Homo sapiens: one gene and its partners. The protein of the gene in region 1 interacts with the protein of each later gene in a biochemical or structural test. Each region holds a gene or a part of one and is shown in the gene's direction. Other genes may lie near its edges. The genes, in order: RPS6KA1, LIMK2, DLG4 and PARD3B.

Region 1 (7,022 bases):
TCAGGGAAGTCGTCTATTGGGCCTTTAGGTTCCATCTGCTGTGGTCTGGTGGGAATGGACTTGGGCAGGGGAGCCTCCTGCTGCCTGGATGGGGCCCACCATGCCCACCAGCTCTGTCCCTCCATCAGGATGAGGGCGTCCTCAAGGAGATCTCCATCACGCACCACGTCAAGGCTGGCTCTGAGAAGGCTGATCCATCCCATTTCGAGCTCCTCAAGGTTCTGGGCCAGGGATCCTTTGGCAAAGTGAGTCATGAGCCCATAGCTGTGAAGGCAACACTCGTCATGTTAGAGGTGGGGGTCAAGGGTCACCTAGGGGCCCAAAGGATCAGAGGTCACCTTGGTACCCAGGGAGAGCAAAAAGGTCAGCTTGGGGCTCAGAGAAGATAGAGGTCAGCCTGGACTCAGACCTCTCCCATCTTCTGCCCTGCTTCCTGCTCTGCCTTCTCAGGTCTTCCTGGTGCGGAAAGTCACCCGGCCTGACAGTGGGCACCTGTATGCTATGAAGGTGCTGAAGAAGGCAACGCTGAAAGGTGAGTGGGGACACCTCCCTGTGCAGAACCCAGGCTTGGCTGAGGGAGGCAGCCCAGACTTCAAGGGCCTTGGGTCTGGCAAGGGAGACAGCTCTGTCTTCAGGAGCACCTAGTTCAAAGGTGGAGAAACAGGCCTATTTCTCAGCTATCCCTCGCCAGCCAATCCTCCTCCCCCTAAGCCAAGTGCTAGTGACTGGCTGTGAAGGTCTGGAAGGTGGTAATAGGGTAAATGCAATGTGTTTGTCAGGGGGCGGGGCCCTCAACTACCAAGCTGGTCAAGCAGAGGCATTCTGACTGTTGATGCTAGAAGAGTCTGGGGGAGACCTCTGTGGCCCCTAACTCAGGGGCCTGAGAGAAGGGCGTGAGTGAAGAGGCAGGGAGCCCAGGGAGGCAGCTGGGCTAGGCAAGAGAGGGTGAGTCCAGGCAGGGCCACAGAGCTGGATGGCAGAGAGGTTCAGAAGGGAGCCCCGAGCCAAGGTTAGAGTTCTGGGGACTTACAAAGGGTGTGAAGATGGTTGGTAGTGGGCTTTGGGTTGGATACTGACCACTTGGCCTGGGAACCAGTGTGACCACTGACCCGGCAGAGTCATAGCCAAGTCTCTCTTTAAATAAGTCAAGGCCGGGCGCGGTGGCTCACACCTGTAATCCCAGCACTTTGGGAGGCTGAGGTGGGCGGGTCATTTGAGGTCAGGAGTTCAAGACCTGACCAACATGTTGAAACCCCGTCTCTACTAAAAATACAAAGAAATGAGCTGGGTGTGGTGGTGTGCACCTCTGATCCCAGTCAGAGCCAAATCCTAGCTGGGGAGGTAGTGGGGGCAGTAGGAGGCGTCAGCCTTAAGGACGTTATGGGTGGCTTTGGTATCCTAAGGCCAGCCTGGTGGGTGTGGAAGTCATCCCCCAGGAGGTATGGTGGCAGCTTCAGAGGGAGGAGAAAGATGAAAAGCCTGGGTCCCTGCTGTGAAGGGCTCACAGGCTGGGCAGGAGAGGCTAAGCATACCCGACAGTGTGGTGCAGCCGGTGCTGTGACTGGTGTGCGTGGATATCCGACGCGCTGGGGAGCTGGGAGTGGTGGTGTAGTCTTGTAGAGGGTGGGCCCAGAGGCCAAGGGGACACCTAAGGAGCGGGAAGCCTTGGAGGATGAGTGGATTTCTCTAGACCAAAAATGTTTGAGGAAGGGGACCCTGGGAAGGAGAAACTGTTTGCCTGAACTAAAGTGTAGAGGTGGTTTGAAAATGTAAGGTAAGCTGGGTGCTGTGGCTCATACCTGTAATCCTAGCACTTTGGAAAGCTGAGGCGAGTGGATCACTTGAGGTCAAGAGTTCGAGACCAGCCTGGCCAACATGGGAAAACCCCATCTCTACTAAAATACAAAAATTATCTGGGTATGCTGGTATGCACACCTATAGTCCCAGCTACTCAGGAGGTTGAGGCACAAGAATTGCTTGAACCCAGGAGGTGGAGATTGCAGTGAGCCGAGATCGCGCCACCATACTCCAGCCTGGGCGATGAGAGCGAAACTCCATCTCAGAAAAAAAAAAAAAGAAAAAAGAAAATGTAAGGTGACCAAAATAGTTAACTCCGGTGTGGTCCTTGTCATGTCTAATGAGGAAAACACAAAAATTAAAACAGAAGAAGGGGACCAGCTCCTGCAGCCCTGTGTGCTGACATAGAAGGTGTGTTGGAAGGCAGCTGCAGCTTCTACTTGTAGCAAGGGCCAAGGATTGTGTCCTGAACAAGACTCCGGAAAGACATGCAGGAGGAGTACATTGGCCAGATCTCCTAAGATAAGCAGCTGTGAGCATCAATTCTGGAATGGCAGTGACGAATGAATAGAATTCATACTAGATGGATGGACTAGTGAAGGCTTTGGGACTATGAGGCTGGAGAGGAAACTGCCAATCCAGTACATGGACCAAAAAAGCCTTTAGTTTTGCATTGTGTGTATTGCTCAGACATTTTGTCTGGTCTTAGTAAGCACTCCCTAGCCTTCCACCTCTCCTTTTAATAAAAGTCAAGGCTGGGTGCGGTGGCTCATGCCTGTAATCCCAGCACTTTGGGAGGCCAAGGTGGGTGGATCATTTGAGGTCAGGAGCTCAAGACCAGCCTGGCCAACATGGTGAAACCCTGTCTCTACTAAAAATACAAAAAAAATGAGCCAGGTTTGGTGTGTCTGTAATCCCAGCTACTCAGGAGGCTGAGGCACTAGAATCGCTTGAACCTGGGAGGCAAAGGTTGCAGTGAGCCAAGATCACACCACTGCACTCCAGCTTGGGTGACAGAGTGAGACCCTGTCCCATTAAAAAAAAGTCAAAGGACACATGAGAGGTCTCAGTCAAGGGGTAATCAATATTGTGATAAACTTAGTTGAAACACACTGCCCAAAATGAACCTAGGCAGCCATGTCCAAAAGCCTGTTCTTTTTTTTTTTTTTTTTTTTTTCTTTCCCGAGATGGAGTCTCACTCTATCGCTCAGACTGGAGGGCAGTGGTGTGATCTCGGCTCACTGCAACCTCCGCTCCGCAGGTTCAGGCAATTCTCCTGCCTCAGCCTCCTGAGTAGCTGGGATTACAGGCACATGCCACCACGCCTGGCTAATTTTTGTATATATATTTTTTTCTTTTTTGAGACGGAGTTTCACTCTCGTTGCCCAGACTGGAGTGCAATGGTGCAATCTCGGCTCATCACAACCTCTGCCTCCCGGGTTCAAGTGATTCTCCTGCCTCGGCCTCACGAGTAACTGGGATTACAGGCCCACGCCACCACGCCTAGCTAATTTTGTATTTTTAGTAGAGACAGGGTTTCTCCATGTTGGTCAGGCTGGTCTCAAACTCCTGACTTCAGGTGATCCGCCTTCCTCAGCCTCCCAAAGTGCTAGTATTACAGGCATGAGCCACCACGCCTGGCCAATTTTTTTTTTTTTTTTTTTTTGAGGCAGAGTCTCACTCTGTCACCAGGCTGGAGTGCAGTGGCGTGATCTCGGCTCACTGCAACCTCCGCCTCCTGGGTTCAAGCGATTCCCCTGCCTCAGCCTCCTGAGTAGCTGGGATTACAGGCACGTGCCACCAGGCTGGCTAATTTTTTGTATTTTTTACTAGAGACAGGGTTTCACCATGTTGGCCAGGATGGTCTCGATCTCCTGACCTCATGATCTGCCTGCCTCGGCCTCCCAAAGTGCTGGGATTAGAGGTGTGAGCCACCACGCCTGGTCCCAATTTTTGTATTTTTAATAGAGACAGGGTTTCACCATGTTGGCCAGGCTAGTCTCGAACTCCTGACCTCAAGTGATCCTCCTGCCTCAGCCTCCCAAAGTGCTGGGATTACAGGCATGAGCCACTGTGCCCGGCCCAAAAGCCTGTTCTAATCAGACTAGTGAAATCAATAAAACATGATACTTGGTGGGCTTCAATAAATTTAGAAGGCAACCTGAAAAAGAGAAAAGTGCTCCAAAGGAGAAGCACAAGCACTGTAGGAATCCAGAAGGCCCTAACCCAGCTTGGCAAATTAAGGAGCGCTTCCTGGAGAAGGTGAGGCCTAAGCTGAGTCAAAGAACCTGCTGAGAATCAGAACTGCCCAATAACTTGTATTATTTAAAAAAATAAATAAATAATATGAAGGGTGCCCACCCAGACCCATAGATCGGGATTTTAGGCCCAGGGATCCAGCTCACCAGGTAGCCGTTCTTACCAGCCCCGAGACCAGAATTTGGGAATTTTTATGCCAGATGGAAAGCAGAGCTGGTGAAGGCATGCCAGGGGGAGGTGCAGAGGCAAAGTCTGAGGATCTGACAAAGCAGAGAACCCTGGGGGAGCAGGTTGCTCAGACTGGCTGATTAACAGGTCTTGATGGGGTCTGGTGGGAAAAGGGACCAGAGAGATGGGCAGGGTGCCAAGGCCCCAGCTGTGGGCACTGCTGTGAGGGGTGGGGACAAGGAGCCAGCCAAGGAGCCAGAAACAGACTGGCAAGGAGGAAACCTGAGGATTGAGTGTCCCCAAAGCCCTGGGTGAGGGGGCTTTGGGAGCTCAGGCCTGGAGGAACAAGTGGAAAAGAGATCCCTTAGCGGGGGCTTGGGAGTGGCTGTGTTGAGTGTCTAGGCTACTGGTGACTTCCTTTCTCGTCTGGCCAGTACGTGACCGCGTCCGGACCAAGATGGAGAGAGACATCCTGGCTGATGTAAATCACCCATTCGTGGTGAAGCTGCACTATGGTAAAGCTTCTGGCCCTGCCTGAGCTCCTACCCCACCCATCCTTCGCCCTTGCCTGTGGTCTGTACACTGTCCCACCGCCTGCCTGGCAGGCCAAGGGAGCCAGGGCCGGAGAAGCAGATCATAAGGCCGCGCCGACTCTACCATTGCCTTTCTCCCTCTTCCCAGCCTTCCAGACCGAGGGCAAGCTCTATCTCATTCTGGACTTCCTGCGTGGTGGGGACCTCTTCACCCGGCTCTCAAAAGAGGTGAGCTGACATCTACTGCCAGAGGGCCCCGGGATGGAGCTGAGGGACGACAAGTCCTCCCATCCCAGGGCCCTGTACAGAATGTGTTTGGTATGGCTTGAACCTGGAACCACCCAGGCCTGCCTAGCAGCCCCTGGCCCAGGAAATACCACGCACCCTGGAATGGAGGCCATACGCTGGCAAGGTCTCTGAGAGTTTCTCCCAAGGAAACTCCAGGGAGCTAAGGGTTCCTCTCACCTCTGCACCTGCCTTCTTCCAGGGCTGCTCTGGGCAGAGGTGTGAAGATAGGGGAGAAGCCCAAAGTCACCCAGAGAGCCAGAGACTTTAGCAGTCATCTTGCGTATGTCATCCAAAAGGATTTTGAACCAATATAAAAGGATTTGAGGCTGGGCGCAGCGGCTCACGCCTGTTATCCCAGCACTTTGGGAGGCCGAGGTGGGCAGATCAGGAGGTCAGGAGATCAAGACCATCCTGCCCAACATGGTGAAACCCCGTCTCTACTAAAAATACAAAAATTAGCTGGGTATGGTGGAGTGTGCCTGTAATCCCAGCTACTCAGGAAGCGGAGGCACAAGAATCGCTTGAACCCAGGAGGCAGAGGTTGCAGTGAGCCAAGATCGCGCCACTGCACTCCAGCTTGGCAACAGAGCGAGACTCTGTCTCAAAAAAAAAAAAAAAAAAAAAAAGGATTTGAGCTAGAAAATGGGACCATTCGTACAATTCAAACTTTAAAGAGAATCTAGCTTTTTTTTTTTTTAATTGTAATTTTTTTTTTTTTTTCAGATGGAGTTTTGCTCTTGTCACCCAGGCTGGAGTGCACTGGTGGGGTCTCAGCTCACTGCAACCTCCGCCTCCCGGGTTCAAGCAATTCTCCTGCCTCAGCCTCCCGAGTAGCTGGGATGACAGGTGCACGCCACCACGCCTGGTTAATTTTTGTATTTTTGGTAGAGACAGGGTTTCTCCATGTTGGCCAGGCTGGTCTCGAACTCCTGACCTCGGGTGATCCGCCTGCCTCAGCCTCCCAAACTGCTGGCTGGGATTATAGGTGTGAGCCACCGTGCCCGGCTTAAATTGTGATTTTAATGTTTGAATAGGTAATATACATGATTCAAAAGAAAAATATTCATGAAGAAGTCTTCCTCCCACCCCAGCCCCCTCTATTCCCATCTATAGGTAAACATTTTTATTGGTTTCTTGTTTAACTTTCCCATGTTTCTTTTGCAAACAAATCCGATATATGTTCATTCCTACCCCCATTTCCTTATGTAAAAAGTACTATTCTGTATACACTGTTCTGTACCTTGCTTTTTTCAAGATAGTATATCTTGGAGCTCACTCCATGTCAGAACACGGAGAAACTCCTTGTTCCAGTTCATGGCTGCAAAGCACTCCATTATGCAGGGGAGAGGGCTGATTCCAGCCTTCTACTCTTGGACCCTAGGCCTGTTTCCCACCCCTTCTATTTCTGAATGGTGCCACAATGAGTGGCTTGCGTATTAGTCATTTCATACTTCAAATCCTTTGTATGATGAGAAGGCTATATGGCCTGGGGTTTCCAAGGGTCCTCCCAGGGTGGCTCTTCAGGACCAGGAAGCTGCTGACTGCCCAGTGCCCCAGCTCTTAAGGAAGAGGAGGTCCCTGCTGAAGGCCCCTCCTGTCTTTTGCAGGTGATGTTCACGGAGGAGGATGTGAAGTTTTACCTGGCTGAGCTGGCTCTGGGCCTGGATCACCTGCACAGCCTGGGTATCATTTACAGAGACCTCAAGCCTGAGAAGTGAGTGAAGCCTCCAGCCCCACCCCAGCCTCCCCAGGGGAGGCCTCTTCTAGGACAGGGCCATCCTGAGGTGGGTGGGCATGGCTTTCTCCAGAAACGTCTCCCTCTCTTGGGCAATCTGAGGGATGGGTGAGTGGGGTGGGTGGTAGTGCCAGCTGCCCAGTCACTAATGCTACCATTACCAAGGGCCAGGTACTTTGCATGCAGGTAATGTTGCCCGTCTTTTTTTGCTAATCTAGTGTGACATTTGAGATGCCACCTTT
Region 2 (7,022 bases), on another chromosome or scaffold:
CAAACCATGTTCTGAGACACCTCAGATTCCTCGTGTAACCGGAGAATCGATAACAAATCAAATATTTACTGAGTGCCTGTGATGTCTGTGGCACTGGGCAGGACCAAGTTTTACCTCTTATAAATTTTAACAGGTGTTAGAGCCAGGAGAGAGTTTTGAGATAATGTATAGTCTCCTTGTTTTACCTATGAAGAAACTGAGGCTCAGGGAAAAAAAACGGAGTTGTCCAGGGTCACTCAACTAGTGGTAGAGCCAGAACCAAGGTAAGACTTCTGCAGTGTTCTTTCCAGTATTCCAGGCTGCTTAAGACGTACAGGGTCTGGCACATGGTAAGCCCTTAATAAGTATTTGTGGAAATGAGTTATATATAGTTTGTGCCTCTGAGAAACTTACTGTCTAGTTAAGGTAATTAAGGCAAAAAACAAAACTGCCATGCTGATCAGTAGTGGGATTGCGCCTGTGAAAAGCCACCGCACTCCAGCCTGGGCTACATAGCAAGATCCCCATCTCTTAAAAAAAAGAAAAAAATTGATAAGACAAGCTGTTATAAGGCTTGCGTATGATAACATTATAGAATTTCAAAGATGAGGGAGAATTCTCTTCAAACATTTATTCCACAAATATATATTGAGTTCCTGCTATGTGCTAAACTCTTTTGGCCCCTAGGGATACAGCAAGGAACAAGATAGACCAAATCCCTTCCCTCATGTAGTGTATGTTCTGGTGGGGAGAGATAGACAGCAAGTAAATGTATGAACATCATATTCAGGGATAAATCCATTGAAGAGAAGTGAAGTAGGGTAAGGGGATAGAAGAAGTGAGTTGTCAGGGAATGTGTTTGGCATGTTTAAAGAATAGCAGGGTATCCAGGGTGGCCATCAGTTTTGGTTAGGGAATACTTCTTGAAGTGGGTAAGACTTGAGAAATCTTAAATAGGCTTAAAGAAGGTGGGGAAGATGATATCTTAGTAGGGAAGAAACTTTGGGAGTAGGAGACAAAAGTAGGCAAGTTTCAGGTCTTCATAAAGGGTAGCAAATACGTGTGGTAGAGGCAAGGATTGGGAGGTGGAAGATTCATAGGAAGTGGAAGGTACAGCTGAGAATGTGGGTGCAACCGGACTAGAGGGTTTAATGCCAGGCTGAGGATTTTGGAAGTTTCTAGTCTACAGTAGGCACCGTAGGTTTAGAGAAAGGAAGACTCATGATGTGGGCACAGGGCCACCAATCTGGAGGTGGGTATAGTGGGCCCTGAGATGAGGTCTTAGTGGTAGCAATGAAGAAGGCACCAACCAATAAAAGATGCCTCCTGACATAGGCAGGCCAGGGTGACTTGGATGGTCCTGGATATGTGATGGAGCAGGGTAGGGTCCAAAATGACCACAAGATTTCAAAACTAAATAAAAATCCGTCATGATCAAGGGGCTGTATTAGGCTTTCCACATTCATGGTGGATTTTCTGCATCTTCTGGAGGCTGAGCTGATTCCCAGAACAGGGCTGCCTTCTTGTTAGTGTAACCTTGAGCGGGTCTGATAGGGCCCACCATCACACACATCTCATTTCAATGAGAGGACCTGAAACTGTAGCAGTCTCTTACAAGTCTACCTTCTTTCTCATCCTTTATCTATTTTTATATAGTAGAAAGAATTAGACTATTTTACCTATTAATTTACATTGAATAGTAACTAGAACATGAAACCAATGCCTGGTTTCATTAAAGTGTTCCTTGAACATTCTTTCTGGGATTCTTTTTTATCATGTCTTTCTGCCTGTAATTTGTTTTGTCCAGGAAAGAAAGTCTAAAATGTAGTTAAAGACAGGCTTTGAGCCAGGTGCAGTGGCTCACGCCTGTAATCCCAGCACTTTGGGAGGCTGAGGTGGGTGGATCACAAGGTCAGGAGTTCAAACCAGTCTGGCCAAGATGGTGAAACCCCATCTCTACTAAAATACAAAAATTAGCCGGGCATGGGGGCAGGTGCCTGTAATCCCAGCTACTCGGGAGGCTGAGGCAGAGAATTGCTTGAACCTGGGAGGCAGAGGTTGCAGTGAGCCGAGGTTGCACCACCGCACTCCAGCCTGGGTGACAGAGCGAGACTCCGTCTCAGAAAAAAAAAAAAAGACAGGCTTTGGAGACTAGACCTGTGGTCTAATCCCAGCTCAAACATTTATTAGCTGAGTATTTCAGTTTCCTCTTCCGTAAAATGAGAACAATAATAGTTCTTTAAGACTAGTCCTGATCTCATGGGATCTTTGTATTCAGTTAGCTCATACTTGCGTAGTGCTTAGGACATTGTCTGGCATAAAGTAGTTTTTTTCCTCTATCATTGACAACTGGCAGAGAACTGCTGTATGAGAATATATCAATTGGTTAACCAGTTCTCTGATAAAGATATTTTTATAGGCCCTCCATAGATAAGAAAATGCCTACTCATTCACAGTTGAGTGAACTTCTGGTTGGAAGTTGCAGTCTGGGTGGCCTGAAAGACATAAGAACCATCTGTCTCATTTGTCACTGCAGTGTATTTTGTTAATGTACTGAGTTTGCCTTGCCTGTAGCACCTGGTTTGTCCCTCTCTGACATGTTATTTCTGTGTATATCCATGTCCTTCACACCCCATGAGTACACACCAAGGGCCCCAGTAATTCCTGGCCTACTCTGTGCCTTGTACATGGGCACATAGAAAAAAGTTTGCTGAGTTTGTTTTGAAAACCTTCCCTTCAGATTTTAGAAGTTTCTGTATTCAGCTTAACCTTTTCCCCAGCCAACTTCCTAGATACACACGCAGGAAGGAAGAGAAGTTAGTCACAAATCGGTCCAACTAAGTGCCTGGCACCATGGGAGATATTTTCACATCTATTACATTATTTCTATTAATCCACTTGGTAATCCTGTAAAGCAGGTGGTATTATCCTCTTTTTAAAGATTAGGAGACAAGCTCAGAGAGGTCAAATAATTTGCCCAAGGACACAGAGGCAAACAGTGACAGATTCAGGTTTCAAACACACATACATTTACCCCTCACAAATTTTTCCAAATAAACCAAAGAAGGGAAGAAGAGAATAACAGCAAGAAGGAAACTTTCTGAGATACCTGTGTCTGTGCCTTAACCTGAAAAAGGAGAGGCCCTTGGTTTGGTGTCAGTCTCTCAGAGCTGGAAGAAATCACTTGATCCCTCCTTTTACAAAAGAACAATCCAAGGTTTAGAGAAGCTCGAAAGCTCTTTTAAAAATCATCTAATCTTTTTTTTTCCTGAGACACTCCTTTTGGTAAAATTTGGTAAGCTAGTGAGGAAGAAAACCCTTTGGGTTACAGGGAGAGTATCTAGAGGCATGTTAATCCTTACTGTTAGTCTTTTTGATAGTCACTTCATTAAAATGTGATCTTTTTCTCTTGGCTTTTCCCCAGCAGCTGCTGCCCTGCCCTTCTGCTTTCTGCTTTGTCCCAGAACAAGTGGGATTTATACACCTGACCCGCCAGTTCCCAAGGGGCCCAGGGGTTACCATACTTGTTTTATGCTGCACTGAATTGGCTGAGTTTTGTTCCTGGTTCTCGTTGTCTGGTGGAACGTGAGAAGCTTCAAAGATTTTTTTAAATGAAAGGATAGGATGTTGATTTAAGCTAGGCATTAGAGTCTCATGAGCTCTCAGTGCTTGAGGATTTCTCACCATTTTGAAGCCTAAAAAGGACTCATTTGCAGAAACCAAGCTCTTAGACCAAATTTAAGGTGAACATTGTGGGGACTGCATTGGCTCTGAGCTGGGATACCAGGCCAACCCTTCCACTGAATAGCTGTGTGTTCTTGAGCAAGTCTCAACTTGTCTGAGGCTGCATAGGGTATTAAAAATATGACTGGCATGGTAGTCTCTGAGCATGGGTTTGAATCCCTCCTGGACCATCTTTCAGTAGCTTTGTGGTGGTTAGGCAAGTCTATTTTCCTTCTTTTTTTTTTGGCGCCTGCCCCAGTGGATTCACATTTGTTTGAGGGCCACATTGCTAATTAAGTTGGGAGAGAGAAGCATTCATAAAGTGAATGTAAAGTGAATGTATTTTATACCAAGATTGAAAAGGTCTTAAAGGTGAGAACCCCTATAATGAGACATTTGTTGCAGTGCTCACCTTACGTTGCACAGTTGCACTTATTAAAAGCAACAAATTCCAATAATAACTGAAAACACAGTTTTCTGTTTATTAAACACCTAATAAGGGTCCTTTATTGTTTGAAGGTACTGTGAACATTTACTTAAATCAAGCTCCTTTTCTGGACTCTTCTTTTTTTTATTTTATTTTATTTTTTTGAGACAGAGTCTGGCTCTGTCGCCCAAGCTGGAGCGCAGTGGCACGATCTCGGCTCACTGCAAGCTCCACCTCCCGGGTTCATGCCATTCTCCTGCTTCAGCCTCCCGAGTAGCTGGGACTACAGGCGCCCATCACCATGCCCGGCTAATTTTTTGTATTTTTTAGTAGAGATAGGGTTTCACCGTGTTAGCCAGGATGGCCTTGATCTCTTGACCTCGTGATCCACCCGCCTCGGCCTCCCAAAGTGCTGGGATTACAGGCGTGAGCCACCACGCCCGGCTCTTTTCTGGACTCTTAACAATCAGTAGCCACTGTTGATAAGTCTGCAAATATGAGAGGTAAACACTATAGAGGGAGAGAATGAACAGCCTGGTACAATGAGATATTTTCTTAAGAAAGAACTTCCCAGGCTGACTGGACTTTGGATTGATCCTCCACTAGGCTTCACAGAAATCCCTAAGACTTTGCATTACAGTATTACATTTCTTTTACATTTCCTAGAATAAAGGTGGTAAGAGAATAGATCAATGAATTTTTAAGACTGTAAGAGAGCTAAAGAAGTCAAGAGTGTTCTCTTGAAGAGGGTCTGGGCGTAGGAGGCTGTGTGCTTTGGGTGAATATCTTTGCTCAGGTACTTCCTAACAGAAAAGCAGTGTGAATGCATAACAGGTAAACTGAGGCCAGGTTTATCCACATGAGACTACTCATAGGTAATCTGGGAGCCAGAACAGTTATTCCAGTGGAATCATCTGTGCTGACCTTTGGAACTTATCTTTGGAAATTGCTTTTATAGCTGGCAGTTGGATCCAAATTTTCAGTTGGGTTCACCACACAAAGGAATGTCTGTTTTGCACCAGGCCCAAGGTTAGGCCCTGGAGATAAGAACATAATAAAGATACAGTTCTTACACCTTAGTTCTCTGAATGGGGTGTGGGGGAGGAGAGTGGAGAGAGAGGGACTGAAGGAGAGAGAAACATATGCAGTGAACTGTAATTAAATAACAAATTATGTAAAATAGGTATAGACAAAATGAAACAAACACTGCCTGATTTTAGGGAACTTTAAAGAAAGGATAGAAATTTGATTAAGGGGCCGGGAGCAGTGGCTCACGCCTGTAATCCCAGCACTTTGGGAGGCCGAGGTGGGCAGACCACCTGAGGTTGGGAGTTTGAGACCAGCCTGACCAACATGGAGAAACTCCGTCTCTACTAAAAATACAAAATTAGCCGGGCGTCGTGGCGCATGCCCACAATCCCAGCTATACTCGGGAGGCTGAGGCAGGAGAATCACTTGAACCTGGGAGGCGGAGGTTGTGGTGAGCCGAGATTGTGCCATTGCACTCCAGCCTGGGCAACAAAAGCAAAACTCTGTTTCAAAAAAAAAAATTTTTTTTTTGATTAAGGGAAAAGATAGAGAAGCTTATACATAGAGAATAACTGGAGGTGTGAATGTCAGGATGCAAGTACATGAATAAAAGTGGCAGGAATAGAAAATAGGTCAAAATGTAACTAGAGCATTCTTTTGTAAGGAATGGTGAGAGAGAAGGGTCCTTTGGGACCACATTGTAAGGACCATTTGCTCTTTCAGTAACTGTTTATTGAAGGATTGTAGCAGACCAGGGGCCAGACATGGTTTGCTAGCCCTTTGGAGGTAGCAAAAGCCAACTTTAATGATGTGTGAGAAGTTTTTGTTCCTGCCCCAGGGCCTTTGCACATGTCCCCCCTCTCCAGTGTTAGCCTTCCTTCCCCCCTTTTTTGCCCCGTTAATTTGTATTCATCCTTTAGAGCTCAGCTTGGAAATTACTTCCTCAAGGAATACTTTGGCCGCCCGCCCTTTTCCTAGTTATGAACTTGATATCTTCGTACCACTTGCCCCAATTATAAATAAATAATAATAATAATTATTATTTTTTGAGACAGAGTCTCGCTCTGTCGCCCAAGCTGGAATGCAGTGGAATGATCTTGGCTCACTGCAACCTCCGCCTACCAGGTTCAAGCAATTCTCTTGCCTCAGCCTCCTGAGTAGCTGGGACTACAGGCGCCCACCACCATGCCTGGCTAATTTTTGTATTTGTAGTAGAGACAAGGTTTCACCATATTGGCCAGGCTGGTCTCGAACTCCTGACCTTGTGATCCACCTGCCTCAGCCTCCCAAAGTGCTGGGATTACAGGCGTGAGCCACTGCGCCCGGCCCTCAATAAATAATTATATTATTGTTTAATATTTGCTTTGTGTTTAATCTCTCTCTTGTTTGCTCCTCTTTCCCCAACACAGTGTCAGATGCATAGTTGGCATGCAATAAATATTTGCTGAAAGAATGACTGAAGCGGGTCCATTGAATTTAGCAATAAGCAGTTACTGTTACTGTTGACCTTGGTGAGACAGTTTCAGAGAAATGGTGGGGGTGGAAGCCAGATTGCAGTGCATTATGCAGAAAGTGGGAAGTGAGGAAATGAGGGCAGCGATGTGTAGACAACTTTTTTTCTTTTTTCTTTTTTTTTGAGTTGGAGTTTCACTCTTGCCCAGGCTGGAGTGCAATGGCGAGATCTCAGCTCACTGCAACCTCTGCCTCCCGGGTTCAAGCCATTCTCCTGCCTCAGCCTCCTGAGTAGCTGGGATTACAGGCATGCACCACCATGCCTGGCTAATTTTGTATTTTTGGTAGAGATGTGGTTTCTCCATGTTGGTCATGGCTGGTCTCAAATTCCCGACCTCAGGTGATCCACCCG
Region 3 (7,741 bases), on another chromosome or scaffold:
TCCTGCCCCTCAGTCCTAAGCTCCCCCAACCCAAATTCACTCACTGGGTAATGCCCCCGAAGCCCCTCTCCACCACAAAAGCTGTGATCTTCTCCTTCACGGCTCCTGTGGCTGGATCTGTAACTGGTGTCTTGGCAAAGACCGTGAAGATGTCTGCTAGGCCCCCATTACTGTGGAAGAATGGGATATTCAGGGCGTGGAGGACGGGGAGCAGTGGGGCCTGGAATTGGGCGGAGGAGAAGGGGAGAAATGGGAGGCAGGTTGCCTGATCCAAAGCTTGCTTCCATTGAGGGTATAGTATTTTCCACAGGGGCTGGGCACAGCAGAGGTTCGGATGGAGGCTGCATCTGACCCGCTTGAGGGCTCGGTTAGACAGAAAGCGGCCACAGTCTCCCCTGTTGGGGAGAGAGCTACTTTACCCCAAGTTCTGATGAGCTTCAAAGTCCCCTCGGCCCACTTCCCCATCCCTCCAGCAGGCAGTTCCCCCTTAACACCTGGGAGTATCCAGTTCTTTTGCATGTCCCAACCAGCACACTGTGATGCCTCCCCAAAACCTTCCCCCAACTGAAATGCTCAGCCATCTGATAATCTAAGTGCCAACTGGCCTAATCTGTGCCAAGCCCAGTGTGCCCCCCAATCCCTGGCTCTCCTAGGGTTGCCTCACCAGATGCCAGCTTGGGGAGGTATTTTTCTTTCTGGGCCTTTGTGCCAAAGAGCAGGATGCCTTTGAAACCGATGCTCTGATGGGCCCCCAGGGTAATGCCCACGCCAAGGTCATGCATGCCCACGATCTCCACCAAACGGGCGTACTGGAGGGGAAGCAGGAATCTGGGGTTGTCACTGGCTGCAGGGGGACCTGACCTTAACAGGAGAGTGTGGGCAACAGGGCAGTTCCTGACCTAGGGCAGTTCCTGACCTAGGGCAGTGCCTGACCTGGGCCATCCCCAGTGTGTAGAAAAGAAGTGGGGTGTGCAAAGGGCACAGCAGAGAATGCTGGTCTGTCTTAGGTCTAGGTAGGAGGGTGACTTGCTACTAGTCAGTCTATTGTTAGGCAATCCCCAACTTAGAGATTTGTAAGGACTTGGGAACCAGGGTGAGGCCCATGGCTCAGGCCTAGGGGACTGCATGTAAATTGTGTTATGTTTGGACAGTTAACATCCATCCCACAGGCACCCAGGGCAGGTGCTTAGAAGAGACCTTAGCCCTAGTCTCTAGGTCTATGGCAAAAGAGCTGAGTCTGCCAAGCTGGGGTATGGCATACTGGGATGTGGCGATAGGGCGCCCTCACCTGGGTGTTGCAAAGGCCCACACCACCCAGCTCACTGGGCACTTGCAGACCAAAGGCCCCCAGCTCCTTGAGGCCCTGCCAAGTGGTCTCCTCCACCATCTCCAGAGCGTCATTCTTGGCGGGATCGTTCACTTCCTGGGGAAGGCACAGGATCCCACATCCAGGCTCCTTTTGAGCTTAACATCTCCAAACACCTCACCAGGGACCAAGCCCCGAGTCATTCCTTACCTCGAAGAAACGGGACACAGGCTCCACCAGCTCTTTAAGAAACTGTGTCTGCTCTTCGTTGAGCACTGCAGAGGGTGGGGGACAGGCTGGTCAGGCCAGGCTGGCAGGGGAAACCACCCTGGCCCCACCCAGCTCTGATTATCCCTTCCCTTACCGGACGGGTATGGGAACACCTGATCTGTGGTGAGCTGGCCTTTGAACATTCCCACAGCAAAGGACTTAGATTCCTGGGCAGAGAGAGGCAAATTTCAGGGCTCTGGTTGGGTCTGGCTAAGGTCCACCTGGCCTCGGGGCTACCTACCGCCTTGGCCGGTTTTTTCCTGGTCAGAGCGTCAGAGGGGTGGGAATCTGACTTGTCCAGAGCCAGCTGGGAAAAGAGACGGTTAGCAAGTTCAGGGAAGGGACTTCCGCTGTGTCAAGGGGAGAACAGGCGAGAGCCGCGCGGGGAGGCGGCGCGAAGCGGTGACCTTTCCCCTAGTTTCGCCCTAGGGCACCCTGGCTTGCCCTTTCCCCTACTTTCGGCGACTGAGCAGTAGGCAGGTACCTGGCACCAAGAGGGAGATCCCTGCCGATGGCGGGCGCCGAAGCGGACCGCCGCTCCCACACCCCCTTGCCAAGGCTGCGGTGACTTACCTGAGCGGCACCCCCGGCATAGGGCCGCCGGGCAGGGCCGGGCCGGGGCTGCCCCAGGAGCGCCGTGAGCCGCGAGCTGTGGGGAGTGGGGGTTCAGTGCCGGCCCGGTGCCCAGGGCCGCTGCCCACCGTCCCTCTTGTCACACACAGACCTTCCGCCCCCGAGCCTCAGCAGCTGCCGCCCCAAGCTCGCGGCCATCCGAGCCGCCTGCATCTCCGAATCTCTCCGGGCGCCGCTGGCTCGAGCTCTGACCCAGCTCTGGCGTCCTGCACGCCCACGTCCTGGCGCCCCTAACCCTGACTCATCGTCCACAGTGCACCGGGCGGCGGACGGTTGCGGGCCCCGGGGCATGCTGGGAGCTGTAGTTCCCTGGAGCCCGGCCCTGCGTTCCGCTGACTTAGAGGGATCTCCAAGCGTCCCTCGTCTCCCCCAAACTCCTTAATCCCGCCCGTCCGACCTAGAGTCTAGTCCTCCGACGGGGTGATGGGATAGGATGGGACAGAAGAGGAAGGGGCTTAAGTCACTGCAGCCAGAGGGATGGAGGTGGACTGAAGGGAGGGCTTCTCCGGTGGGGTTAGAAGGGAAAAGTAGGGAAAGAGAAGTGTAAGGTAGATGGCAGAGGCAGAGACATGGAAAGACAGACTCTAGGGTTCCTGATGAAATCTATCTCGGCCAACACAAAAGGGAGGGTACAGTGGTGGGGGGCACCCAAGCTAGGGTGTGAGTACCCTAAGTGTATTCTTCTGAGATGTAGGCCATTCACTAACTCTTGGAACAGCTACAGTTTCACAGTAGGAAGACCCCCCCAGATTCACTGCCCCTCCCTTAGTAAAGCCTCTGAGACCTTCCTGAACATTCCCTTCTGTCTTTGCCCTCTGTTCCTTCCAGAGACCATGTGCCCAGGCAGATGGATTCCTCCCGGGCCTGAGAGGAACTGCAGGAATTCTCCTGCCTCTTACCCGTAAAACCCCAACTTCTCTAGCCCTAGGGCAGGAAGTCCCAAACAATTTCTACCCCTTTTTCTGCAATTCTCATTGGGGTGAGAGGAGGCCCAGGAGGAGAGAGAGCTGGGCTCAGCTTCTTTTTGAGCTGCTGGAGCCCTCTGTGAGGAGGCCCTCTTTGCTGGCTTCTCAGGAGAGCGTGGCTAGGTTCTGCCTGCCTATGGGAAGAGGGGGCCAGGGTGTGTGGAGCAAGATGGTGGCGGTGCTGGTGCCTTGGGACCTGGGGGAATGGGACAGCTGGTCGGCTCAGAGACGGCCTACTTTACTCACAGCTGGAATTTAGTGGGGAGAAGCAGCTCAACTCCAATCCTGGAGGATTAGGGAGATTAAAGTGAGAGAAGAGAGAGATGTCCCAGAGACCAAGAGGTGAAAAACAGGGCTCCTTGTGGAGGGGAGGTCTGGGAGCGAAGTGGGGGGCTGGGGCTCGGAGATCCTTCTCCCCAAATCTTTCCGTAGGGGCTGGGGTGAAGGGCACAGTCTGGGGAGATGAAGTGACAGTGTGTTCATCTTCCTGTGTTGGCATCTTCCCTGTCCCAATTCTCCTTGCATCTCACTAGCTCCCAGGTCAGCCCTCTGGCTCCTGGCACCCCCACTGCTGCGGTGGGCACCCCCACTCCTCACAGTGCTGCATAGCGACCTCTTCCAGGCCTTGCTGGGTGAGTAGCCCGTTTTCTGAGGGACCTGGGCCTCCAAGGGCCATTACTGAACTTCGGGGGCTGTTTGGGAGCCCAGAGATCATTTGGTCCAAGCTGGAGCACCATGCAGGGTCCTGCCTATGGTGTCCTCCATGAGTGTGGACCAGCCTTGGCTGAAAGGGCTCCTCCCTTGCCAGCCAGCCAGCAGCGGTGATGACAGGGGTGATGTGCCTGGAGAGGCCTGGGGTGGGGAGGTAACTCAGTTCTGTTCCTGTGACAGACATCCTGGACTATTATGAGGCTTCCCTCTCAGAGAGTCAGGTAAGGAGGTGGGGGCGAGCGCCTAACTTCCTGAGGGGCAGGCAGGGCTGGAGGGGTGAGCCAAATATCACTAATATTACCTGGAATCTTGGGGGCCCTGCTGACAAAAGCCTGAGTCAGTGGCCCAGGGACTTGGGGCACCGAGAATGCACTCTCTGTGGTCCTGTACCCACTCTCCCTTTCTTCCTCGTTTTCTTTGGCTGCCCCAGTTTCAGGCACTAAAGAGTCTAGGGCTTAACTTTTTAGGTTTCCCCCTGAGAAACCTGAGGGAGAACTAGGCCCCCAGGGATTGCCTCCTTCAGCTCCTCCCTCACACCCGACCCCCTACCGCCTGCCGAGAGGCCTCCCTCCCGTATTCAAATAACCGTGGGTGCTCCCAGCCCAACTATAGATGCTTCCTTCTCTAAGAAATGAAATCCAGCCTCATCGTCTTTGCTGTCATCGCTGGTGGCTGGCCAGGTCTCCATGTTTGCCTCAGGGGCCTCTGTGCTTCTGCTTCTATCTCCTTTCCCATTATCCGGGTTCCTGCCAGCACAGAAGGAGTTAACTCTGCCAAGGCACCCCCCCCATTCTGGCTCCTAGCTCCCTCCCTCCCTCCCCCTGCTTCCTCTCTCCTCCTCTCTCCCCTTCCCTCTTCGGCTCCACGGCTCCCTCGGCCGCTGCCGTTTCCAACCCCCCCACCCCACTCCCCCGCCACGGCCCCTAGCCCCTGGCCGTTTGGCAAGACCCCCCCCTACCCCGGGGCTCCCCGAAATCCAGTTCCCCTCCCCCACCCCAGCTCATGCCCCAGCCCCCGAACTCCGGGGCTGCCAGCCCCCGGTGCCCCCGCCCCTCCTGAGAATCGGGGTGTGCTCCCCAAGCCCCCTCCCCTCCACTGGGGAGCCCCTTTTAGGGCCCCCTTCCCCTCCCTCCCACGCTCCCCTCCCCTTCCCTTCTCCAACCCCCTCCTTCCCCTCTCACCCCTCCCCCCATCCTGGCCCCCCCTGCAAAAGTGGGGTGCGGAGGGGGGAGGGGTGAGAACCCACGGAGGGGAGGAACGAAACTCCGATGAAGTCAGAGCCCCTTACCCGCCGCCGCGGCCAGGCCCCCCAACATGGACTGTCTCTGTATAGTGACAACCAAGGTAAGCATGATGGGGGGGCTATAAACTGGGGGGAGGGTATGAGTTTGTGGGGAGGGGTTAGTAGGCCTTATCTGGGACTGGCGCCCCTGGAGTGGCAGCATCAGAAGTAAGATGTATTTGGGGGTCTTAATTTAGTTTTGGGGTTCACATCTGAGAAAATGCAGGATTTGGCCACAGGTGCCCCCTGGAGTGATCCCTTTGTACCTGTAGGGATATGGAAAATTTAGGATATTCCATGGTTCGGGGGGCCTGGCGGGTTTGGGGGTTCATCAGCGCTGTTTGAGGGAGACTTATTTAAGGAGAAGCCTGGCTCATAAGGGAGTCCTGCTGGTGTATGTGGGAAGGTGGGCTATGTTGGGGGGTTCCTCTTTCCTCCCCAGGGAAAAGCTGGCTTCCAAGGGCCTTGTCCAGTTTTGGGGGGCTCCTGGCATGGGGTAAAGGTTATTGGTTGTGAGTGCCTGACTGATCTGGGGGTGTCAGCTGGCAGGGAAGGGGTGGGCCTTCAGACTCTAGAACAAGCATCTCGTGGTGGCTGCATTTAGGGATGCTCTCTCAATTTGAGGGAACTGTTAATTTAGGGTTCAGTCATATAGAATGGAGGTAGTTGGAAGTTGTCAGAGGGCTGGGGCCCTGGCATGGGATCACCTGAGGGAATGGACCAGGTGAGGCAAGGATTTGGGGGTACTCCCATAGGAGGCAGAAGATTGCAGCAGCCGAGCTTGCCAGCCCCTGAGGAGGAGGATGAGAGGCTTAGGGAGAGAGGGGATTTGAGGAGGGGGACCGGGTGGGTGGTGCACAATTTGGGGGTGGCCCAAAGGCAGGTGCCCAATATCCCCATCTCCTCCCACACTGTATCTAGCCCTGATCAAGAGAGAGGGAGAAGAGCAGATGTGGGGACTGTTCCAGATACCCCTGACGCTTGGGATCAAGGTGGGGGAGGACACCTGGATTTAAGGGTCCCTGAGGGCTTATGACCGAAGTTACTGAGGTTACTGGGGTGAAAAGGTGTAGGAGGAGGGCAGGGCTGGCAGCGATGGGGATCTGTGCAAGAGTGTCCCTCTGGTTGGAGCCTGGCAAAGGCAGGAGATCTCGGATGGAGCACAGGCGAGCTCCTGGTGGGATGCAGATACCTAGGCTCTCCTTGGAGACTCTGGGACTGGAGAGCTGGATGCCTGGTGTGTGGAGGGAGGCTTGGGCGGGTGGCAGGCAGCTGGGGGCTGGGGGGTGGGACAGGAAGTGGGGGCCGGGGGAGGCGGGGTCCGGGTGAGTCACAGGCTGGGGAGGGGGTTATATTTAGTGGGAACTGCAGCTTTTCATGGGAGGGAGCTGAGGACACACATGTTCCCTGCCACAAACTCACACATGTGTGTACACATGCATTGTGCACGTGTGAGGATGGTTGGAAGAGATTGGGGGCTGAGGACCTTTAGATCTGGAGCCCCCACCCTCTCTCCACCAGGGCGACTTTCTTGTCCTTCATTCTGTGGGTTTCGGGCTTTCTCCCAGGCTGCCTCTTCCCCACATCCCCTGTAGTTTCGGTGGATTTTTATGCCTCAGTTTCTCTGGCCTGGTTTCCTCTGCTCCCGCTGTCTCCTGCCCTTAGGCCTGTCACTTGGCCTTAGGCTCCATGGCTGTGGTCCCCTGCATTCCAGGTGTAAATAGAAAGCCCGCTGGAATGTGTGGGCTCTGCTTCCAACACGTGAACACACAAATGGGAGCGAGGGTGAGGGGCTTGCCAGCAGGCAGCTATTCTGGGTGGGTGGGTGGCCTTATTCATTACCCACTCCAGACTCCTACTTCTTCCATGGAGCCCAGGGTTGAGCATCCCTGAAGGAAGGAGGCTTACAGAGCAGATCATGCATTTGGGGTTTACAGAGGCGTGGAGACCCAGGCTTGCCACATTCCTTGGCTGGAAAACTTGTCAGCCTCGGTATGGTGGGGACTCCAACTCCCATAAGGCCCCGAGGCACCAGATCCCTCAATGTTAGAGGGTTGCTGCCCATGGCGCTGTTGGGAGTTGTGGTTCATCTCTATCCAGGGCAGCCAGCGGAGGGTAGCCCAAGAGGAGCCTGCAGGGGGCACATGGCTCCTGCTTCCCCAAATGCTGGATGGGGTAGGGAGTGCTCAGGCTTTGCGGTCGTTGAGCTCCCCAGCTCTGCCTGAGTCTTCCATCTTTCATTGCCTATATTTAGACTCCTGCCGCAGTAATTTAAGGAACATTTATTGAAAGCCTACTGCGTGCTAGGCCCTGTGTTGTGTGCAAACTCCACTCTACAGCGATCACTTTGTCTTTCTTGGTGCCTTTATCTCTGCCAGAATCTCTCGTCTCTGAGCATCTCTTTCTCCCACTCCGCCCCCGTCCCTCCCCCTTTCCCCGCGCTGCTGCCGCCGTTGCCATGGTAACCGGCGACGACTGAAGCTGCGTGGCGGACTGGAGGGCCGGGCGAGGGTGGCGGAAGGCGGAGCAGAACAAGTGGGGGTGGGGATACAGTGGGGGAAAGACTGAGGCTAT
Region 4 (7,022 bases), on another chromosome or scaffold:
GTCTGATGATTATTTTGGCTAAAACCAAAAAGCCTGATTCAGAAATGTAGTTTTATTATAAGTTCATGGTTAACTGTTCAGTAACTTGGTGAAATAGTTCTATTATTTATTTTTTGCTATCCACCAGTATTATAGGAAGGAAATTTAATTAAAAAACATTAAAAATGCTATGGAAGTGGAGACATGAGCCAATAAAAGTTAAGGAGTAATGAGTACAGGCTGAAACAGCACGCTTAACTCAACCCATGTGTCTAGATGCAACTGTGTATAGAGCATGTCAGACAAGTGTCTGACTTCATAATGCCATATGGTTTCACTGTGTGAGCACAGGGGCTTCGTTAAGGTCATAGTGGTATACTTTGCTCTTAATTTCCTTCCATTTATTGGTTTGTGCCATTATTTTAAATTAGAATTTACATTTAATTTTTTTACTAAGATTACTGTAATTGGCTTTGCCTCCAATGTATTTTTTTATTTTTTTTTCTTTTAGAAAAATGTTGCCACACCTGTTGTTGAATAAGAAACCTAATCTAAGTTAGATCATCCTAATAAGTAAATTATAGTGGCTGCTCTGCTAGATAAAGCCTCAATGAATTCATTAGATACCATCGCAGAGGGGTGCTGAATGCTGCTTGTATTGAGGGCCATTGGCTTTCCCAGTAAAAACAAAGCAAACATAAAAAAAACACCAAAGTTCTTGCAACTAAAATGCAACTTAATTTTATTCAGATTTTTAAAATCAATGTGGTTTTTGTGAATTAAAAACATGAAATCTAATTCGTTTCAGTACAGATGCATAATATGCCTCAGTTTCATAGGGAAGACAGCTAAACAGGAGAGAGAAGGAGAAGGACTGGATGAAGGCTGATAAAGACTGTGAGAAGAGATGTTCAAACCAAAATTCTAAGCTGGTAGAGTCACTGAGGCTGTGTGACATTGGGAAAAGAACAGGAAGGGGGCAAGGAGAAGATGTTGGTGCCTAAATGATAATTAGAAGAGCAAGAAGAATTGTTACCCCTCTAATTCTGTGAGGCTGTGGATTTCAGCATCCTTTATCACTGTTCATTAATGCAAATTAACTGGTTAGTCTCGGCCTATAACTCCTCGACAGCATTAATCTTTAAATTCTGCGAGTCTTGGTCCCAAATGAGACAGCTACCACAGCCCACCAGTTCAGGGCAAAGAGGATAATGAGGTATTGTTTTCTGAGCCTTCTTGTATTGGTCTGGATGAAATCAAACTGGAGGGAATCTATCCCTTCCACGGAGCAGAGAGGGCAGAAGTGGTTTGTTGCCAGGGACCAAACTAATAAAATCAGTCAGTTTTACATTTTACCAAAATTACCTCTGACACATGGGTTTTACAGTTGGGCTTATTCTGTCAATAAATTTTTCATGGAAAGTTAGATTATTTAGATCAGTGAGGTTCACATAGCATACTCCAGCTGTAATATGCCAGCTAAATTGCAACCCAGTGGCCCGAAAGAATTAATTCATCTCCCAAAATGTGAAATTAAATCCTAGGGAGTAACATTACATGACTGATGATGTACTGAATTAAATTAAAGGAAGACTTGAATGCTTGTTAAAAAAATATCACTTACATAAACACGTTTATAACCACATGTGAGCCTCCTAATGAATCAAGTTATTGTGAATCCACCCTAACAAAAATCCAAAATGTGAACTCTTAGGATGCTGTTTAATTTAGGGAAAAAACCCATAAGTTTTATCTATTATTTTAATGTGTCAAATAGTTTCATTTTTAATACTGTGTTTCAAGATTAAAGTAACACAGAATATGACTAATTTGCTAACCTACTGGAACTAGGAAATGAACCACAAGACCCCACTGCACACTTGTGCCTATGACCCTGAGCCTTCCCTGCAGTAGATGGCATGGCTGTTTGCTGTTCTTTCTCCTGCAGCAGCGTGCTGTATTCATTTAACATTTTGAAGTGAGACCCAAATATCACTGCCATGCCTGTTGAGGTCTTGAGATGATGGGAGCTCATTAAGGGGACAGAGGTTCAACTCCGTGGCCACTCCAAACAGGAGGACTACTTTCTCTAATACTTGCATTGTAGATTCCCCTTTTCTATGGCTGACCCTGTTATTTACACATAAAATGTACTCATGTTTTATTTAGGTTTGAAATTTAATGTGAAGGTATTTTGTAATAGCACACATGGATTTTATACAAAAGAGAGTGACAAAGTCGAAAAGCAAGAGTATTGATAAAGTGCAGATCACAGTTTCTCCAAATGTAGCAGACTCCTCTTGCAGGACATATCTATCTTTCTTACTCTGGACACAGCTAAGCCTTGTCACATCACGAGGAGAAGGGAAATCCCACAAATAAGAAATAATGAAAATATGTATAAGTTCCATTTCTTACGGTTTTTGGTTTAGTTTTGGTTTATATATGTAACAGAATTGTGTATGTATGTGTGTACACACACACACACACACACATACACACACACATATTTTAATTCTAGTGGCTATAGTTTTCTTTCTTCTTTCCTTCTCTTCCAACCCTCCTGATTCTAAGCTACAGCCACAAAAATCCAGAGGCCTCTTTGTATCCTCTCTAATTTAGCCTCTTCTTGGTTGAAATTTTGGACAACTCTTCCCAAAGCCTGCCTTCATCATGTCGCTGCCCTACTCGGAAGCGGGGTCTGCTAGATGCCCCCCTCCAGGTCCATCAGATTAAGTTCATTGGCTGTTTGTTCAAAGCCTTTGTGTGTGGCACTGGTCTCCCATCTAGTTAGCTCTCAAATCTTTGAAGGCTCTAGGCTTGTTAATGTCTTTAGTTTTTGGACTTCAGCTGTCCCCCAAATGTATAGTGAAATTACCTGGTCCTGGTCCTATGACTTTGTCTCATACTCCTCCATCCTGATCACACAGGAAACACCCAACACATACTTGATTTGGTAGCACCAACAAATGGGATCCAGCTTCCTTCTAAACTGAGTAATATGATCTGAGCTTAAATGTTTCTTTACTTCTTAAAATGCAAATTTTTAGAATAGGTAGTAAGACTGCAAAAATGTTACTGTGAATATCCTAATGCTCTCCCACTGCTAAACATCACGTTGCCACGTTGGCACTAACTCAGACTTACTATAGTCAGGTGTGATGCCCTTCTCCAAACCACAAGTCTTTGGTGTCAACTCCAGTAAACTAGCCTTTCAATAAGTTTACTGCAAGCATGAGAAATGAAGTCGCAGATTGATGTTGGTACTTATGCATATTTATCTAGAAGGGCTTTTTCTCTTGTAGTCAGTTTTGGCTTTTTTTGGATTAGGGATTAAAATAACAAACAGTTGCCTGAATATAAAGTAAAATTTCTTTTGTAAATAGAAATCAATATGTATTTCTGAATAGTTGCAAGTGGAGAAATAATTAGCATTTATTATTCAGTAATTATATTTCAATCTAAATTTTGCATTTAGGATTCTAGGACTCTTCATCCGAGGCATTGAAGACAACAGCAGGTCCAAGCGGGAGGGACTATTTCACGAAAATGAATGTATTGTAAAAATCAACAATGTGGATCTCGTAGACAAAACCTTTGCTCAGTAAGCATTTTTTCATTGTTTTATTTACTTTCTTGATCCCTAGCATGGTTATAAGCATTACTGAACTCATTATGATCAAAATAGTAGGTAGAATTTCTAGTCAGTTCCCTTTGAACGATCCAGGATATCCATTTTCGAATGCTTCTAATGTTTTAGCCTACTCAAAGGTGGCCCACACATGTCTCTGGCAGGTCTGAGAATGCTAAACTACAGAATATCACAAGCCTTCCTGCCTGGCTGTCTTTACTGGGGCGTCGTTGAACGGGTTTGTTTTTCTTGGGCTATGGGTCACTTAAACTGGTATTTAACGGCTCTTTTCACAGACTGTTGGTTCAGCTTATTAATTAACTTTCTTGGTGTCAGCAGTCTTCCTTAAACTAAAAAATCTGTGAGAGATGTCTGAGGACTCACCGAATCATAGAAACAAACAGAAAAAATAAAATACCGTCTCCTGGCCAGGCGGAGTGGTTCATGCCTGTAATCCCAGCATTTTGGGGGGCCGAGGAGGGCAGATCATGAGGTCAGGAGTTCAAGACCAACTGGCCAATATGGTGAAACCCCATCTCTACTAAAGGTACGAGAAAAATTAGCCAGGCGTGGTGGTACGCGCCTGTAATCCCAGCTACTTGGGAGGCTGAGGCAGGAGAATCGCTTGAACCTGGGGGACAGAGGTTGCGGTGAGCCGAGATCGCGCCTTTGCACTCCACCCTGGGTGACAGGGAGAAACTCCGTCTTCAAAATAAATAAATAAATAATACTGTCTCCCTCAAGAAATCATCTTTCTGCATGTGAAAATGTTAAGGGAATAGCTTCCTGTACCCAGGAATTAGAGTGTATAGTAATCTGATGCATATTTTTTTAATGTGTGTTGGCATTGCAGTGGGATTCTGGACCAAAGGACTAAGTACTAATAATCCTTGGGAGTCATCACCACCCTCTTGTTTCTGACCAAAACAGCTCCTAATACATCTTCTCGCTGGGCATTAGTTGTCAATATTGTATGCGTGTTTGTGGACAAAGATGAGTGGTTGTGGGTCGAGGAAAAGTGGGTACTGGCTGCTAAGTATGAAAAGAAATGAAACCTTAGAAGAATCTATTGTGTTAAAATAATGAATGATAGACAAAACTATAGTTAGTAATAATTTTTAATATACTACTGTGCTTTTTCACAAGGACTTGATAATTATGCAAAGCAATCATTATTACTTCTGTTTTATAGAGGTGGAAACTGAGGCTCATAAAAATTTAGTATAGAGTTAGTATGGAGTAGAAACTGATTCCTATGCAAGCAAAAATAACATAGGGGAACTGACCACAGGAGTTAGGTGGAGTTAGGCCTATGTGAAATCTTCCTTCTCCCCTAACAATTTGCAGAATTAAGCACTTCAGAAAGGGGGGTGCGGGGTAGGGTTTAAGGAATCAGATTGCAGTTGGGATTATGATTAGTTATTATGTGCTGTGGCTGCTAGGAACAGAGACCTGAAATAAGAATAGCTGAAACAAGATTAACATTAATTTTTCCTAGCAACAAGCAAACGTGGAAGAGGGCACTCCACAGTTAGTGCGGCAGCTGCACAGCCGCCAGTGGGTCAGGCAGCTTCCGTTTTCTGCTTTGCCATCTCGCCATGTGGCTACTATCCTTCAGTGGAAAAATGGGCACAAGATGGCTGCTGAGTTTCCTCAGTCACTTCTGAGTTTCAAGAAATAGGGAAGAGAAACAGGAGAACAATAAAAGTTTTTGTCTCTCTACTGAACCAGCCGCTTCTAAAGAGCTTTCCTTTAACGCCTTCATTTATATCTTCTGGGCAAGAAAGAGTGGGAAAGGTAGTTGTTTGACCTGGGCACAGGGCATCTAGAGGCATGAGGAAGAAGAAAATGTTATAAGAAGTTTGAGGAAGAACACAAAGTGTTAGGTCATAAAAGTGAAAAACACAGTTGCTCTGTGTGAGAGTAACAGGAAGGGTGCATGTTGGATTGAAATTCCACTGAGACATTTTGGCACAGCCAAAGCACCTGCCAAAATGTCTCCATGAGCAAACATGGATGTCAAACTTGAACTTGTGTAACACAACCCATGTTAGAGAAGATCTGTACTTTAGAAGGATGTCCTAAAAGAAACCTAACTAATGATCTGATCCAAAATATCTATTTTGCTTTTTATATTCACTTTGGTAATCACTTCTGGTTAGATTTTCATCTTTAGAAACATGTAAAAGCTGTGGGTCATTGGATAAATTATTTCATCTCTCTGAGCCTCAACTTCCATGTCCGTGAAATGAAAGCTATTTATACTTACCGAATGTGCTTTCTAAATTAGAGAAGGATGCATGCTAATAATGCATGTATAAGCTAGTGCAGGGGCACCTAGTGCAAATAGTAAGTGGTAACTAGTATGTAGTTGGCAAAGTCATTCTGATAGGAATATTGATCGTGTCTCCTATGATTAGCCACTGTGCTGCTCTTGGTTGCCATCCTCCTGGGGTACTTTAGAAGATGCTGCACCTCAAAGCAGGGTCATCATACATTTATCAACTTTCTTTCCAGGGCTCAAGATGTCTTCCGCCAGGCAATGAAATCTCCAAGTGTGCTCCTCCACGTGCTTCCTCCACAAAACCGTGAACAGTATGAAAAGTCAGTCATTGGCTCTCTTAACATTTTTGGTAATAATGATGGCGTTTTGAAAACCAAAGTGCCGCCTCCTGTCCATGGAAAATCGGGACTAAAGACAGCAAATCTCACAGGAACCGATAGTCCTGAAACAGATGCATCAGCTTCCCTGCAACAAAACAAGAGTCCCCGAGTACCAAGGCTGGGAGGAAAACCATCCTCTCCCTCACTCTCGCCTCTCATGGGATTTGGCAGCAATAAAAATGCAAAGAAAATTAAGATTGACCTAAAGAAAGGTAATTATTAAATTATGCCTAATAGCATTCTATTATTGTAACATGTAAAATTGGTTAAGAGAAATGCATTAAGGCTAATTTAGTTAATTCTCCCTTCATTTAATTGTATCAAAGAATAGATTTAAGTGTATACTTAGGTAACTTAAATTTCTTGAAATTGTACTTTTTTATTCTTTTCTTCGGAGTGTATAGATTATTTTAAACAAGAAAATAATAAAGACATGTTGGGAAGTGGAAAGAATCATTGCAAACCTGATATCAACAGAGCAATATTGTATTACAACTTAATACCAAATAGGCATGAAAATTCAGTTGTCCCTGTTCTGAGCACGATTAGTGATTCTTGAAGCATCCTTTAGGCCATGTCCAAAAAGCATATTGTTTTTCTAAGACAGTCTTCTAACAACAAAAATTTACTCCTCAGAAAGCAAATATGTAATGTTTACTAATTTCTCTGATTCAACGTCACAAACATTTAAAACATACCTAATTTCAAAAGCATGTATAATATTTTCTTTCTTCATCTTTTTCAACTT

What was found.
Region 2: the proteins of RPS6KA1 (region 1) and LIMK2 interact in a test that uses a peptide from one of them, tested with the Homo sapiens proteins (2 studies listed by BioGRID and IntAct).
Region 3: the proteins of RPS6KA1 (region 1) and DLG4 interact in a test that uses a peptide from one of them, tested with the Homo sapiens proteins (2 studies listed by BioGRID and IntAct).
Region 4: the proteins of RPS6KA1 (region 1) and PARD3B interact in a test that uses a peptide from one of them, tested with the Homo sapiens proteins (2 studies listed by BioGRID and IntAct, with this or other methods).

Annotation. Positions count from the first base shown.
Region 1 is NC_000001.11:26,546,739-26,553,760, forward strand, and holds part of RPS6KA1 (ribosomal protein S6 kinase alpha-1), read left to right. Parts: intron 1-128; coding exon 129-245; intron 246-450; coding exon 451-532; intron 533-4,658; coding exon 4,659-4,739; intron 4,740-4,905; coding exon 4,906-4,985; intron 4,986-6,652; coding exon 6,653-6,759; intron 6,760-7,022. UniProt on the Homo sapiens protein: Serine/threonine-protein kinase that acts downstream of ERK (MAPK1/ERK2 and MAPK3/ERK1) signaling and mediates mitogenic and stress-induced activation of the transcription factors CREB1, ETV1/ER81 and NR4A1/NUR77, regulates translation through RPS6 and EIF4B phosphorylation, and mediates cellular proliferation, survival, and differentiation by modulating mTOR signaling and repressing pro-apoptotic function of BAD and DAPK1.
Region 2 is NC_000022.11:31,215,297-31,222,318, forward strand, and holds part of LIMK2 (LIM domain kinase 2), read left to right. Parts: intron 1-7,022. UniProt on the Homo sapiens protein: Serine/threonine-protein kinase that plays an essential role in the regulation of actin filament dynamics. Acts downstream of several Rho family GTPase signal transduction pathways.
Region 3 is NC_000017.11:7,214,606-7,222,346, reverse strand, and holds the start of DLG4 (disks large homolog 4), read left to right. Parts: upstream 1-4,719; 5' UTR 4,720-5,173; coding exon of another isoform or gene 5,174-5,199; coding exon 5,200-5,229; intron 5,230-7,741. Other genes in the region: ACADVL (very long-chain specific acyl-CoA dehydrogenase, mitochondrial), read right to left, coding at 45-170, 266-395, 665-809, 1,289-1,423, 1,517-1,581, 1,671-1,743, 1,818-1,883, 2,150-2,225 and 2 more. UniProt on the Homo sapiens protein: Postsynaptic scaffolding protein that plays a critical role in synaptogenesis and synaptic plasticity by providing a platform for the postsynaptic clustering of crucial synaptic proteins.
Region 4 is NC_000002.12:205,115,464-205,122,485, forward strand, and holds part of PARD3B (partitioning defective 3 homolog B), read left to right. Parts: intron 1-3,457; coding exon 3,458-3,583; intron 3,584-6,127; coding exon 6,128-6,486; intron 6,487-7,022. UniProt on the Homo sapiens protein: Putative adapter protein involved in asymmetrical cell division and cell polarization processes. May play a role in the formation of epithelial tight junctions.